2 separate regions of the Homo sapiens genome follow, and region 2 is linked to region 1. The links come from fine-mapping of genetic effects on gene expression. A gene starts in region 1. The other region holds a variant in brackets. All regions are shown on one strand. Distances are from middle to middle. Region 1 holds the start of EVC2 (EvC ciliary complex subunit 2). Region 2 overlaps EVC (EvC ciliary complex subunit 1).

Region 1 (8,000 bases):
CCAACCAGGCTCAAGGAGTCGCAGAGCCGGGGCTCCGGGCCCGCAGGACCCAGAAGCCACGCGCCCCGCGCTCCCCGCCCCGCCGCTGTCTGCTCGGCCGACCCACCTGGTGTCGCGTGCGCTGGCGGCCCGCGCGGCAGCCAAGCCAAAGGCCGAGGCCGAGGCCGAGCGCGGCGCCCAGCAGCACGGCGGGGGCCAGCAGGGCGGGCGCCGGCCGCAGCGCGTCCCGCCCCAGCAGCAGCCGCGCGTCGCTCTTGCAGGCCGCCCCGCCGCGGGCCATCCGGGGCGCTCAGGCTGCCGCCCCGCCGCATCCCGCCGCCTGCTGCACCGTCCCCGCCAGGGCGGCGACGCGGGACTTGGAGCCCGGGCGGGCCAGGGGCGCGGCCCGCTCCGCAGACTTTCTGGCCTGTGCAGTCTCCCGACTCCTGCTTCTCTCCCCTTCCCTGCTTCGCCGAGCCGGAGGGAGGAGCCTGGATCACCGCTCAAAACTTTCAGCCACCCCCGCCCCAGCCCTGCCCCTGCACTGAGCATGCCCAGAGACAGACGCGCCTCCCAGCCCCGGACCCTTCCGGAGGGGGGCCCGGTTTCCACCCCTTTAACTTTACTGAGGCTTAGAAGGCTCCTTTAAGTTTTTTGAGGCTTAGAATATGCTACGCATTTAGCTTAATGATCTCATTAACTTTCTCAATAACCCTCTGCGGTGGGTGCTCCGCCCATCCTCCTGATGAAGACGCTGGGATCAATGCAATTCCAACCCCCTGCCCTTGCCCCTAACCTCTACCCATCAACCTTCCCGGGAACACACCGCCCTCCACGCCTCTGAACTTGCTCACGCGAAGACTCCTGTTTTAATCTTATTTTGTCCCAGGGAAGGTCGAGACAATGGGTGGAGACACCGTTACACTCAGTCTCCACTAGGAGGATGGGTAAAGGGATCCTTACACCCAGACCCCACTGAGACGATGGGTAGAGAGACCCTTACACCTAGTCCCCACTAGGACCAAGGGTAGAGAGACCCTTACACCCACTCCCCACTGAGACAATGGATAAAGAGACCCTTACACCCGCTCCCCACTAGGACCAGGACACTGCACCATCCTTCATTTACTCAGCACTTGGAGAGAATCTGTTGTGTGTGTGTTGCAGGCTGGGGGATAGGCCAGCCACAAACCAGGCAGTGTCCAGGCTAGTGAGTATCTCACAGTTGTTTAGAGTGATAAAAAATTAAAGGAGTTCATCACTGTGTTTGCTTTAAACAAACATTTATGGGGTAGCTACTAGATGTTTGCTTTTGTCCTGGGTGCCTGGGTAAAGCACACATGCACATGCACGACTGCACACTTGCACTCAGGGGCACACACACACACACACCTACCCTGTGGAGCTTAATTCCCTGTGTGGGCCGGGCTAGGGGACACCATGGGGATCTGCTTCAGCAGAGGAGGGCTTTGTCCTTTCAGCCTAGATGTCCAGCTTGTTTCTAGTTTGTTTCATCATTTCCTCATGGCAAGATGGGAACTGTTATCCAAATTCTTCATCTTTTTTTAATAAATGAAGAAACTGACAGCTGGAGAGGAGAGGTGACTCATTTGCAATTAAGGAGTGGGGCAGAATTCTTGTCTCATTTACACCTGTGTCTGGCTTCAGGGCAAACTCTCTGCTATGTGGAGCTTCTTATATATTACCTTAGAAGCATCTCCAAGGTTCCTGGGGACATGTATGGGGGCAATAACTTGACGCTCTTGTTTTACATTTCCATGAATGCTTAGGCTTTAGTTTTTAAAATGTGGTGTTTGGGCCAGGTGTGGTTGCTCACGCCTGTAATCCCAGCACTTTGGGAGGCTCAAGTGGAGGATTGTCTGAGCCCAGGAGTTTAAGACCAGTCTTGGCAACATAGTGAGACCCTGACTCCATAAAAAATACTAAGGAGATTTTTTAAATGTAGGGTTATTTGCTTTTTACTTTATCATAAAGTTGTTGACTATTAAATTAACCTTTAAATGACTGACTGTCAAACAACTCCAACGGTCCAGCAACATGCTTGGCATTTAGCCTGTGGTCTTGTCACATGCCTGACAGCTGCCACGTACCCCCTGGTGTGGGGAACTTGGCTTATAAATTCTCAGCTTCTCGAACCCCATGGCCTTGTCCATGTTAGGTCAGGAAAGGCCTGTCCTTGGATGGTCTGGGTTATGGGGAGAGAGGCTGCCAGGGGCCAGGCTCGCTGGCCTGAGACTTTATAGACAGCCTAACAGCCTGCCCCGCAGGAAGGCTGGCGGGAGTGGAGCCCTCCCCCGTCAACAGGTGTCAGCTGTCACCCAGGACCTAGGCAGGGATGAGGAAGCACACAAAAGGCTCCACCAGTCCCCCTTTTTGTGTCTTTCTCCTCCTCCTCCTCCTGCGTCCCTTGGCAAAGCAAATCCCTGTCCCCTCGGAGAGTTCAGGGAGAGCTTGCTTAGGGCTGCGACTTCAGACACCAGCTCCCCTCTTTCTAGGTCCCCAGAGAGGTGGCCCAGCGGCTGGCCTGTTTCCCACTGGGAATGCGAGGGGCACCCGGGCCGGCCCAGGGCTGACCCACAGCAGGCTCGGGCAGTGGGTGCTCAGCTGGTCTGCACTGAACGCAACCGGAAGTGAGGGTCCTTTTCCTTCTCTGCGGCCACCCCCTCCTCCCCGAGCTTTCCTGAACCTTCTGGGTGCTCCAGGACTCCCGGCCCCGCGCTCCAAATGCTTCTCCGTTTTCTAAGCGGGGATGGGGAAACTCTGGATTCACATCCGTGTGTCAGGAAACCGTTCCCAGGGGAAGTGCGTCTGAGCTGAGGCTTACAGACCCAGGTAGGCGGTAGCGGAGGGGCCCTTGGGGTCCTGGTAACCTCGGGGAGCAGGGGAGTGACCCGCTCTGATTCGGTTTGGGCGCAAGCAAACCCAGGCCTGGCCGCCGGGCGCCTGGGCCGCGCCAACTCGCTCTCCCCCTCCCACGCCCGTCCGGCACCTCCTGGCCCGCCAAGCCCCAGATGCGGGTGTTTGTTCCAGAAAACTTTCGGCGGCGGCTCGCACTGAGCATGCTCGGCGGCGGGGCGGGCCTGGGGTCCGGAAGCTCCAGCGACTCGGCGGCACCCGCCGCTTTGAGGTAGCGGGTCCCGACAGGCGATGGACCCCTCGGGCTCCCGGGGGCGCCCCACGTGGGTGCTGGCCGGGGGTCTCCTGGCAGTGGCCCTGGCGCTGGGGGGCCGAGGCTGTCTCGGCGCCAGCTCACGTCCCCGCTGGCGCCCCCTCGGCGCGCAGCCACCCCGGGATCCCCAGGTGGCTCCTAGGTCTGGGCCCGGCCTGAGGATCCCTCCGGGGCGGAGCGGGGCGGGGCCCGAGAGCAGCACGCAGGTAAGGAGGGCCCGACCCCAGGCTCCGGTCTGACTGTAGTGGTTTGACTTTGTCTACACCGGCGGTGGCAGGGAGGACCCTTAGTATTTCGCAAAGAATGAGGAAGGGAGGGCAGGATCTGAATAGGGTGCTTCGCGGCCCTTAGGTGTATCCCGCTCACGGCCAGAAAGCTTCGAGGGAAACTGGAGACCTTCCTCGGGGTGTGGCAGCTGCCGGCTTGGACTTCACCAGCGACCCTGGTTCGAATCCTGCTCTCCATTTTACGAGCTTCGACCTAGGGCAGTTCACTCCTGTGCCCCAGTTTCCTGATCGTTGAAACGGGGCCGTCGCGGCGTCCACCCCAGAGGGTGGAAGTGGGTTAGATGAGCTCACATATGCAGAGCCCCTTGCAGAGGCCAGCACTGGGAAATTGCAGCGGTTTTTAAAAGTGGGGGCTCTTGGCTGGACTCTTAGGTGACTGAACTCTCCTGGCTGATGGATTTAGCCACTTCCTACTTCACCCTGGCCCTCCCTCTGTGGTCCTAAACTCGAAAGGCATGGATCCCTGGCTGTAGCCCTAGACTTGACCTCCCCCGACAAAGCTGGTCACCAGTCCTAGTGCCTTTTCCTCCAAATCAGCTCGGATGTCTGCCCCTCCTCACTCCCCACTGCCACTCCCTGGCTTCAGGTCCCACCACTTCACTTCCAGCCCTTGGTGATGGTTTTCCCACGTCTCCCATCCATTTTCCCCCAGACCTCTGGGGTGGTCTGTCCTGGTAGACATTCTGCCACTCCTGTCCCATGCTGGCACTCTTCTCTCCACCTTATTGCCCCTGACAGCACACCCAGGCTCCTATTCCCAGGACTGCCCTGGCCAATGGTCTGGCCCATTGATGCTGCCCTGAGGTCCTCCCACCTCTCTCCTAGGGTGGTGGGTCGTGTCCTGCTGTGTTCTCTACCCCAGGACACTTGCGACACTGGCAGAGGTTTAGTCTCTTAAAAGAGACCCTGCTCCCTTTCTGTCTTTAGGTTTTCACTGGAAAAACGCCATGTCAGTGTCCTGAGCTTTCAAAAGTCCAATGACAGAACATGTTCCCTGGGTCCTTTCACTTGCATCTGCCCTGTGAGATGGGAGTATCTGGCCCGTTTTGCAGGTGACAAAACCAAGGCTCAGGGAGCCGCGTCCCCAGGCCTGTCCTGTACTCTCTCTCTGGCCCCCGAGTTCAGAGCCTGCGTGCCTGGCCTCACCTGCTTTGCACAAGCTCTTCCTTCTGGGAAGCCAGTGTCAGAAATCCTGGTGCACATTGGCCTCTGTCAGCCACAGTGGTGTTGAGGGTGGTCCCTGCCAGAAGGGAGGGACGGTGCCTACTGGGAAGGGCCTGAAGCCATCTAGGACCATGGTGGGTGTAGAGTACCTCACCCTCAAGGGCAACCCCTGCCTTTGCAGGAATCTGGGAATGAGCACCTGTATTCAGGTGCCCTTGGCATCTTGAGCACGTCCCCTGGGCCCTGGCCCTGCCCACGCCCATCCCAGCTGTTGATGGGACCAGCCTTCTTCCGTCTCTCTGGGCCTGTCTTGCATAGCCCTTCTGCACACTGTACAGGAAAGAGCTCTGGCCATGTGTGTCCCTGCCTTGGCCACTCCCTCTTGTGGGGCCTGGGACAAGTCACAGCCCTCAGGGTCTCTGCTTCCTCTTCTGAGCAATGGTGTAAGGGCTGTTCCCAGAGCACAGTTCCCGAAGGCACAGGTTAGTTCTTCCTATTGTAATTATATGATGCCTTCATGTAATTACTTGATACCATCTATCCATCCATTCATTCAATATTATCTATGTATGTATGTATGTATGTATGTATGTATCTATCTATCTATCTATGTATCTATCTATCTATGTATCTATCTATCTATCTATGTATCTATCTATGTATCTATCTATGTATCTATCTATGTGTCTATCTATCTATGTATCTATCTATCTATCTATGTATCTATCTATCTATGTATCTATCTATATTTATTGCACCTTTGCTAAGTCCCATGCTGTGTGCAGGGGGCTGGGAGACCAATGCCTAATTGCACACAGTGATTGCTGTGAGGAGGAGGATGGGGAGCCGTGAGAGAGGGTGGAGGAAGGAGGTCATTTAGTCTGGAAGGTCAGTCAAGACTTGAAGGATGGGCAGGTTTAGCCAGGGAAGGAGTCAGGAGAGAACATCCCAAGTGGAGGAATCGTCATGGGTGTGGCCCGCATGTAGGAGGAGCTTGGCATATTCCAAGTCTCTGGCCCCCTGATGCTGGGACATCTCTTGGTGAGAACATTTACCACATTGTTTGGGCTGCTTGTCTGTTTCCTTTGCTGGACTGTGAGTTCCTGTGGGCAGGGATTTTACCTTTTTTAATTTCATCATTTGATGCCCACTGGGAATGCATTTTATTCCCCAGTGGTTCTTAAGGTGGGGCCCAGGGAATCCCTGGCGTCACTGAACCATTATAGGGGTCCATGGAGTCACAGCTATTTTCACAGTAATACTGAGGTATTACTTACTTTTTCTACTCATTTTCTCACAATTGTGCGATGGGGTTTTCCAAGGTGACAGGAAGTGTGATGTTGCAGCAGATTTAATGTACAAGCAGATTTGAGAATCCAGCTCCTTCCATTAACTCAGACATAGATGAGGTTTGCAAAAATGTAAAAAAATGCCATTCTTCTCACTTTTTTTATTTTAGAAAATAAAACAGTTTTAGTTTATTTAGTTTTCAAAAAAAAATGCTATTTATGTTAATATGCAATGGCATTGTTATTCCTATTTAAAATGAATTACTAGACACTTTAAAATATTCTCACCTTTAATTTAAAGAGAGTAAATGTTGATAAATATAATCAGCACAAACAAAAGTTTTTTGGAGTCTTCAATAATTGGAAAATGTGTAAAGGAGTCCCAAGACCAACATGTCTGAGAAATCAGTGCTCAGTAGCAAGCCTATCTGATGTCCCAAGAATTAGAGATGAAAGAAACCACCCAGACCCTTTGAAAGATAAGTGTCTATTTCAGAATGGGATCCTTTCATCATTTTCACCATTTCATTATGCTAATAGTATCATTTCGTTATTTTACTTGAAGTACCACACAACAGTAATTTAGGTTGGTTGTGATGCCAAGTTCAGTGGATTGGGTGTGTCCCAGATTTGTAGAAAAGAACAACAAAAAATCAGCCAGATATGATGTAACATTATCTGTTACACTGTGTAATTACTATAGCTTCAAAACTGCAGCCTTGGAATTCTGAGTTAAGGGAACTATTAGTCAAATAAGCTCACGCCTGTAATCCCAACACTTTGGGAGGCTAAGTCAGGAGGATCGCTTGAGGTCAGGAGTTCAAAAGCAGCCTGGGAAACATAGTGAGACCCCCATCTCTACAAAACATATATATATATATAGCTGTGTGTGATAGCACATGCCTGTATTCCCAGGTTTTCAGGAGGCTGAGGCAGGAAGATGGCTTGAAACCAGGAGTTCGAGGATGCAGTGAGCTATGATCTCACCACTGCACTCCAACCTGGATGGCAGAACAAGACCCTCTCTCAAACAACAACAACAACAAAACAAAACTTCCTGAGAGCTTGGTCAGGAAAGATGGAGATCATGAGTGTATCTGTGCTTCACTTGATCTTTAATGGCCGGAGCACCCCAGGACTCAGTGCTGGGTTCTCTTCTTCCTTCTGTCAGTACTCACACCCTTGGTGATCTATCCCCTGGCAGCTCCCGAATTTCCATCTCCAGCCAAGACCTTCTCTGAGCTCCACCGTGGATCTGCATGCCTACCTGACATGGCCCGTGGAGGCTCACAGGCACTCCACAACTCATGCACCAAGGCAGAACCGAAATCCTGCCCCTTGCCTCCCTTCCTGTCAGTGGTTCCTTTGTCTTTTTCTTGCTGGGCCCAGAGGCCTTGGCACCCTCCTTGCCTCCTCCCTCTCCCCAAGCCCCACATTTAGTCAGCATATCGCATGGGTTTCATTTTCAAAACACACCCACAATCAACACAGTTTTCACTCTCTTTACAAACACCATCTTCATCTGAATTGCCACCTTCTCTCTGGGATTATTGTGGAGCCGCCTGACTGACCTCCTTGCATCTCCCCTTGAGTACTTCTCTGTTCTCAACAGAGCAGCCAGAGTGTCCCATTTAAAATGGCTATTATGCCACTCATCACGGAGTAGCTCACGGTGGCTTCCCATTGTCCCCAGAGCAGAAACCACTCACTCGCCCTGCTCAGGCACCCTGGCCTCCTTGTGTTCCTTGAACACCCTGGGTGTGTTCCCACCTCAGGGCCCTTGCACGGGTCTTTCCTCTGCCTGAACTAATGCTCCTCCCCCTGATACCCTGACAGCCACTCTGTCACCCTGTTAAAGCCTTTCAACATAACCCCATTTAAAATGGCAACCCCCATTACTCTCTGTTCCTATTTCCTTCTTTATTTTGCTCCACTGTTCTTATCACCTTCTAATATACTATATATGGTATGTTACTGTTTTGTTTGTATAATATATATAGTATACTATGATTTTGCTTGTAATTTTCCTAAATAGTGTTCTGAGAGTAGAACTTTTGATGTCTCGTTTGTCAACGTATCCTCATTTTCAAA
Region 2 (8,000 bases), 49 kb before region 1:
ATCACTAAGCAAAAAGGAAAACTCAAGCTGAAAACTGCTCAGGGCAAACCTGCCTCCCATCTATTCACAGTTATCTCTCTGCTCATTGAGATAAATGCAGATCTGATTGCCTCCTTTGGAAAGGATAATCAGAAACTCAAAAGAATGCAACTGTTTATCTCTTGCCTACCTGTGATTTGGAAGCCCACTTCCCGCTTGGAGTCTTCCTGTCTTTGCTTCAAGTTGTCCCACCTTTCCTGACCGAACCAATGTACTTCTTACATGTACCGATTGATGTCTCCTGTCTCCCTAAAATGTATAAAACCACGCTGTGTCCGGACCCCCTTGGGCGCGTGTCGTCAGGACGCGCCCTCCTGAGGCTGTGTCCCAGGCTCGCGCAGCCTCAACCTTGGCAAAATAAACTTTCTAAATGAACTGAGACCCGTCTCAGATGTTCTGGGTTTACATTTATATACTGCTTGGCTTACCCTTTGCAGCAATCATTGATAGGGTTTTACTCAGGCTGTCAGCCTGGTTGTGTAATTGTGAGCAAGTGATCTAACCTGTACCTCAATTTCCTTAATCTTGATGACATTCTGATGCACAGCAAGGTTTGAGAACTGCTTTAGAGAGGATGGGTGAGAATCCAATAAGCTACCATAGGGGGTGAGGAGGAGAATGCTGCTGAAACCACCCCCGCCGCCCATAGCCTCTGGGCCACCTGGGCTCACCTCCGGCAGGGGAAATAAGTGGCCCGGCTGGGAATTTGAACCCCAGATGTCTGGCTCCAGAGCCTGGGCTTCACCATTATGCTCCACAGCCCACACGTAAGGCAGGATAGGTAGTCAAGGAAGTGACCATGTCCTTGGGATGCGGCGACCAAACCATCAACACAGTAAGCCTCAGCATTTACACTGTAGTCTGGCTCTTTCAAGCAGTTATCTGCAGTAGGCAACGTCTCCTGCAGTCGGCAGGTGCACTTTGATTTTATCTGTCCTCAGACTGACCCTCTGCGCCATTATAATAGTAAAAAACACACCTTTGGACGGAGACTTAAGATGCTAATGAGACATGTGACGTATGAACAAGTGTGTACAGCTACTGTGCCTGGGCACTCAGAGGACCCGCCCCCACCGCCCTCCACAACATGCTTACTAATAATGCTTCTTCCCACGCCCTTATGAATAATCACATAAGACTCCCCAGAAAGGGAGTTTCCCCGGTAAGTCAAGGCTGTCTCATCTGCTCTGAATCATCTCCCAGGGCATCCTGTCTATTCTGCACCTAACTTTCAGAACATTCTTTCTCCTTTGCAATAAATTGCTCTGTGCTGCATCCCCTTTACTGTGGTCTCTTGTTTACATACTTTTAAACTAAAAACACAAGAAGCGAGGTTTCACAACAGCCGTCAACACTGAGCAGCATGGTTGGGGTGAGCACATCAGCACTAACATTAGAAAGCCTTTATTTTAAATCTCACCTTCCCCGCTTGCTAGCTGTGTAAAACCTGGGCAAGATACATGGGCCAGCACAGACAGGTTATGTAACCAGCCAAGGTCACACAGCATGTTAGCACTCAGAGGAAGATTAGAACTTGGTTTCCCCATGCCCAGCCAGGGATGTGAGTCTTGACTCCTCTGGGGACAAAGTTGTTCCTTTCCTGTCTGTGGGCCCCAGGGCTTTGACAAATTGAGCCCCATCCTACCCATTTCTGGAGAAAACACTTCTTCACTCCTCATCTGGGAAGGAAGGAAAATGCAGTGTCTTCCTCATGAATCTCATGAGAATTAAATAATCAAATACTCAAGAGGCACTTAAGATAGGAGCTAGCCCTGAACAAAGATCGCCTTCCGTTTAGTTTCCTGTGGCTGCCATGACAAAGCGCCGCAAACTGGGTGCATTAAGACAACGAAGTTTATTCTCTCACCGTTCCGGAGGGCATTAGTATGAAACCAAGGTGTTGGCAGAGCCTCGCCCCCTCCAAAGGCTCTGGGAGGGGCCCTTCCTGGGCTCTTCTGGCTTTTGGTGGCTGCAGGTGTTCCTCGGCTTGTGGCTGCATCACTCCAGTCCCTCCTTCTGTCTTCAAACAGCCTCCTTCCCTGTGTCTCTATGTCTTCTCATGGCCTTCTTATAAGGACACCAGCCATTAGAATTAGGGCCCACCCGAATCCAGTAGGACCTAACCAACTGTGCGATCTAACCAATTACATCTGCAAAGCCCTTATTTCCAAGTGTGGCCACATTCCGAGGTTCCAGATGGACATGACGTTTTGAAGGACACTGTTTGGACTAAATTGTGTCTCCCTCCAAAATTCTTAGGTTGAAGCCCTAACCTCCAATATCCCATGTGACTGTATTTGGAGGTAATTAAGTAATCAAATTCTTATGTTGAAGCTCTAACCTCCAATATCCCATGTGGCTGTATTTGGAGACAGGGCCTTTAAGGAGGTAATTAAGGTTAGATGAGGTCATCAGGGTGGGGCCCTAATCCCATAGAACTGGTGTCCTTATAAGAAAAGGGAGAGACCAGAGCCCTCTCTTTCATTCTCTCCCCTGCCCTTCAGTCTTCCAAGCACAGAGAAATAACCGTGTGAGGAGGCAACGGGAAGGCAGCTGTCTGCAAGCCCGGAAGAGAGGCCTCACCAGAAGTCAATCCTGTTGGCACCGTGATCTCGGGCTTCAGCCTCCAGAACCTTGAGAGAACGCTTTTCTGTTGTTTAACCCACCAGTCAGTGGTATTCACCACGGCAGCCCTAGCAGGTTAACAGAGACATGACTGACCCCAGTGCAGCTCCCATCCGGGTGAGGAGTTGCACTTCCCACCACTGCATGAGCTTCTCCCTGATGGGGATGCCCGCTGACTCCTTGTCCACTTGGGCCTGGTCTCATCCAATGCTTGGCTCAGCAATGCCTCCTACAGGCTGCTGTCCTTGACGTCACCTTCACCCAGGAGCCCCTTGCCTCTCCTCTGCACTCAGAAGCAGGGAAGCTGTCACTGGAGACAACGTGCCCTGGGGTGTTCCGAGTGCCAGCTGCTGTCTCGGGTCCCCAAACACAGTCCTCCT[A/G]GCACACCATGAAGAAGAATTATGACTGTCCCCATTTCACAGATGGGGAAACTGAGGGCTAGAGGCCAAGTGATGCTCCTGTGGTCACGCAGTGAGGAAGCGGGGAGCCAGGACACAGACCCAGGCCCTCTCCTCCTCCCAGTGCTGCCCAACACCCACTGGTTGATTCCTTCATAGCCAGGTGTCCACACTCCTGTCTTTCCAACAACTGAGGATGCTGCCTGAGGCAGGGGCTCTGTCTGGCTCAGCATGGCATCCTGTGACTCCTGCCCCTAAAGAGGGCTCAGGTGCCCTCTCCTGCTCTCTGAAAGTCACCCTGCAGGGCAAGCATGGCCAGCTTCACCTCCCCACCCCAGACCTGCACACGGTTGCACAGGGGAAAGAGGTGGTGTGGCATGTGATCTCTGACGTCCCCATTTCAGCCCAGAACCCCTTCTTCATCACCACTTTACACTGATGACACCCAGAAACCCTGGGCCTATTTCTCACCTGGGGAGAACGGATTTCCAAAGAGCTTTGCTGACAGGGATGTGTGGAGATAAGAATCCTCAGCACCCCAAAAATGGACGGTGCCTCAGAGAGGACCAAGGCCAACTGCCTCGGTTTCTGATGTGGGCAAGGAGGATCGCATGGAGGGGACACAGCCTGCGTGGATCACCGGCCAATGAGTGCGGGGTTGGACCTGAACCACCTCTGGGGTCCCCAGCCAGGAGGATGTGAGGTTCTCGCACACACACAGACCCTGGGGCTTCTCTGCTGGTCCCCACAGAGGCCATGTACCTGGCAGAGTGCAACCACAGCCTCGGTGGCTCTGACATTCTCCTCTTCCTCCAGGTCACACTGCATCAGCCTCTGCCTCTCCAGGACCTCATGAAAAGCCTGTGAGGAAAACAAGAGCTGAGTCTGGTAGAAACATGCAGGGTTTTTTTTTTTTTTTCCAGAAGGTTCTCCAACCATCCCCTGCATCTCAGGTTAGAAAGAAGGATGTTGGCACCTGTATTACACACAAGGAAACTGAGGCATGGGGCTGTCACATGGCTTTCACAGCTGATGCCAGGGTCAGCAAATCCGATTTCCAGGAAACACCACAAACCACCACGCTTTTGTTAAAGCCAGGATGAGGAGGGGCCACTGGACCACTTCTGTCACTCCTCTGTCCTGGCTGCAGCCACCCAGACATCACTTTCTGACCACCCAGGCCATGGAAGACCCACTGATGGGAACCCAGCAGGGGTGACACAGACTGGCGATTGGAGGTCAGTGCAGTCAGCAACCAGCCAGGCCCCACTGTGACCACGGGGTGGAGGCCCTTCCCTGAGGACCCCAGCAGAGCAGCAGGAGACTGGGCTAACCCGGGCATCAGCAGGGGGAGACCCAGCCAGCCCTAAACAGAGCATCAGCGAGGGGCGAGGTGGGGCAGAAGGACAGAGGAACAGACCCTTCTCAGGGAAGGGTTGCAGGAGAAAATTCCCTGTTGGGGAGATGTTTCAATGGAGTCTCTAAGGACAAGGAAGGACTCCTTGGAGGGAAGATGGGGAGCCAGGCTCAGCGAGCAGCAGCAGAGACCAGGAGGTAAACCCCCTAAGATCTTTGGTGATGCTACGGGCAGGAGGTGAGATGAGAGAGAAGGGCGGGACTGGAAAAAGGTGGGTGCTGAGTGTGTACTGGGAGCCTGGTGTCGTTCGTTCATTCTCCCACCCATTCCATCCTCCTTCATTCGCTCGTTTGCCCATTTGTCCATGTCCTGGTTCATTCAGGCACGCATGCGCTCATTCACCCTTCCCTGCCTGCGTCCCACGTGTCCTGAACGCCAGCGCTGAGGCGTTCCGAGGACTGTACCGAGGCCCTGGGACACCAAGGTCACCCAGGCACTGTCTCCACACTCTGGACTCACACTGGGCTCTGTGACATCAAGGACAGGGGCCCAGAAATATCCAAATAACGAGGAGCTGAATAGCCTTATCTTCCTCTTATTTCAAATGGGTCTCAAAGATAGAAAAACCTACCCTACCCCTTTGTGGCAAATGCAGAAGCTCCAAGTATGGGCCTGGAAGAGGCCCCCTGGGTGAGGGAGGCAGCTGGACCAGGGACCTAGAGGCCTGTCCTCTGTTCTCGGGGGACCCCTCCATTGGCTTCTCACTGCAGTGGTGCCACCACCACCAGCTTGGCCCCCAGGGAGAGCCCCTGGGCCTCTATTCTGGGCTGAGCCTGGACCCAGACATGGTGCCACCCACCCCTTGGCAGAACTGAGATGTGCTGTACCAAGTGTTGACGGAGGGCAGGCGGACCCAGGCAAACAGTGAGGCTGGGGCTGCCCCTTCCTTGGTCTCACTGAATCCTAACAATGCTGTGATATAGGTGCCATTATGCCCATTTCACAGATGTGGAAGCTGAGGGCCAGAGGGTAAGCAACATGCCCAAGGTCACCCAGCTATTTAGTGGCAGAGTCAGCACCCAAACCCAAGTGTGGCTGGCCTCAGCGCCCAATGCTTAACCAGCCTGCAAGACGGTTACGGACAAGCTGGTCCTCTCCCAGCCCCACTGCCCATTACTAGTGAAAGCAAGCAGAGCGAAACCAGAGCTCGGTGGTCTCTCTGAGAACTGGCGAGTCCAGGTCCTTAGAGCCTGCACTGGGGCCAGCTGACTCCTTTTCCTTGGAGGGTGACATCTTGCTTTTTGTCCTCCTTCAGGTCTTCTTGTCCCCTTCTCAGGCAAGACCAAGGGTACCTCTGACCTTGGCCACCTCCTGGCCCTGACCACTCAACCCCACATGCAAGGCTGGGAACTCCCTTCCTTCTCCTGGACTTGCAGCCGACCCACAAGGGCCCTGTCCCTGGGTGTGTGAGCCTGCCTTACTCTCCGGGACATGCTTGTCCCCTCTGGGCCACACATTGCTCCCTTCACGCCATTGCCACCATCTGTGTGCTCCTGCCATGCGTCTGCACTCTGCCAAGCTCTCTACGGATCCTACCCCCTCCTCTTCTCAGCAGCCCAGTGAGGGCAGCACAACTCTTATCACCAGCTTACAGTCCACTAGGACCCTAGGGATGTAGGGGCTAAGGGACTGAGATTCGGTCACTCGGCTGACACATGGGAAGTAGGCAGATAACCTCATGCCTGATGAATACCTCCGGCGTCCCGTGCTCAGTCACGGGAACAGAGCTACAACTGGCTCACCCACATGTGCAGAGGCTGGGGATGTGAGTCACCTCGAGAAACTTTTCCGGGTCAGCAGTCGGCTGGGCCTCAGCCAGGAAGCTTCTCTGTTCCTCCTCTTGGGCCAGCGTGAGTTTTGCCGTTCCCTCCACCTGGTGAGCCAGAGACGCCGTGACCAGGTCTTTGCCTCGCTGGACAAACTCTGGGATTGAAAAAAGCCACAGCATAGGAGGTGACTCTGTGAGCCAGAATTTCAGTGGGGACCCTCATGCTTTCTCCTGTCTGGAGGTTGGGGAAGCTGGTGTCGGCTGCAGAGATGGTGCCCGCCCTGCTGGTGACACACCTGGGTTTTTCTGTAGGTCCCACTAGTAGTGTGACCTCAGCTAAGCCCAGATGCCTCCACGTCTTGAGCCTTGCCCCACCCCCACCCCAGGGTCAGCCTTGGGGCAGGAGCATGTGTGGGACACATGCACGGCTCCCCTTCCTGCCCCACATGCTGGACCATGGCCCACCCTCACCCACTCTGCCGCTGAGCAGGGCCACATGACTCCAGCATGACCATGAGCTGCCGCTGGGCGACAGGGACCACTTTGTGTAAATTTCTAGTGAGACCCTTCACCCTCCTCTGTCCCTCTGCAGTTCCTGGTGGCTTTGCTGCAGGACGTGGGGACTCAATCAGCCGGAATCCCTGGTGAGTGAGTGCAGCAGGTGACCCCTGCCCTGGGCAGTGGCCCTCATGGACTCTGCTGTACAGAGAAGGGAAGAGAGCCCCAGAGAGCAGCCCAGTGACCCAGTCCCTAGGGCAGAAGCAGAAAGGCAGCCTGTGCCCGGCATCATGGGCACACTGCCCCAGGCTGCCAGCCCTCTCACTGCACAGCCCCAGGGACCCAGAAGGCCAGTGTTGTGGACGGCGGCACCCATGCCCACGGCTCACCCCGGCTGAAGCGCTCTGCCTCCTGCCAGAAGGCCTTGTGCTGCTGCGTGAGCAGCTCCTCCTTCTGCCGCCCGGACAGCTTCCCCTCACCAGCCAGCAGCTCCAGGCCGTGGGAGATGGCAGCCAGCCGGCACCTGGTCTCCTCCTGGACTTGCAGCTTCAGAAACTCAATCACTTTTGCCATGTGCGCCCGCCCCATCGTCCTCTCCAGGGCGTCCTGCAAAAAGAAACACACAGGACCATAGCTGGGGTGTCCTGGGAACCACCAGGGCATGTTAATTAACAGCTGAGAAGAAGCCACCAGGGTCATTAACTAATGGCACTGCCTGGGAGAGCGGAGCTCAGAGGGATGAACTCCCCCTCTCCTTCATGAGCGAGATCTGCGTCTGCCCCCGAGGTGGGGATTAAGTGTCTCTCCTAGGGTGCGGGGAGGCTGACGCAGCTTAGCATGTAGGCACTTAGTCACCAGTAGCGCTCCCCAGAGGGCCACCCTCCTAGGAGGGAATCCAGATTTACAAACGGTCAAGGAGGAAAAGCCACCTGGCTTATAGTCATCTCCCCCGGCCAATCTGGCCCTGTGGCCCCCACAGGGCTGTGGAGGAAATGCAAAGTGCCAGCAGTTCCTGGCTTTTGTTAGAGCCCCAGAGAGCCTGACTGCTGAGGACGGCCGAGATTTTCAGGGGAATGATTGGCTTCCAACACGACTCCCCGCAGTCAGATTCTACAGAAGGCCCTCCCCAGCCCCACCTCATCATTTCAGGGACTCTCAGAAAAGACAGGGGGAAATGTCAACCGGAGGCAGCCAAGGGCCCTGCACACCTGAGAGCAGCTGCTTGTGGAATGAGAGTAAGGGGGAAAGGAGGAGC

What was found.
Region 2: its variant is fine-mapped to the expression of EVC2 in fibroblasts (GTEx, PIP 0.90).

What each region holds. Positions count from the first base shown.
Region 1 is chr4:5,703,661-5,711,660 of GRCh38, reverse strand. It overlaps EVC2 (EvC ciliary complex subunit 2), which reads left to right and starts at 3,102. Exons shown (of 22, transcript NM_147127.5): 1 at 3,102-3,375. The coding sequence starts at 3,148. EVC (EvC ciliary complex subunit 1) reads right to left here and starts at 460. Exons shown (of 21, transcript NM_153717.3): 1 at 107-460. The coding sequence starts at 280. RefSeq lists silencers at 252-401, 452-501, 3,013-3,062, 3,103-3,482 and enhancers at 2,543-3,162, 7,466-7,515, 7,576-7,625.
Region 2 is chr4:5,752,187-5,760,186 of GRCh38, reverse strand. It overlaps EVC (EvC ciliary complex subunit 1), which reads right to left. Exons shown (of 21, transcript NM_153717.3): 9 at 7,135-7,351; 10 at 6,254-6,402; 11 at 3,825-3,923. Among named protein-coding and RNA genes, the nearest start is that of EVC, 45 kb to the right of the region's middle. RefSeq lists enhancers at 868-917, 586-1,785, 6,288-7,243. The variant A/G (reference allele first, on the strand shown) is at 3,045.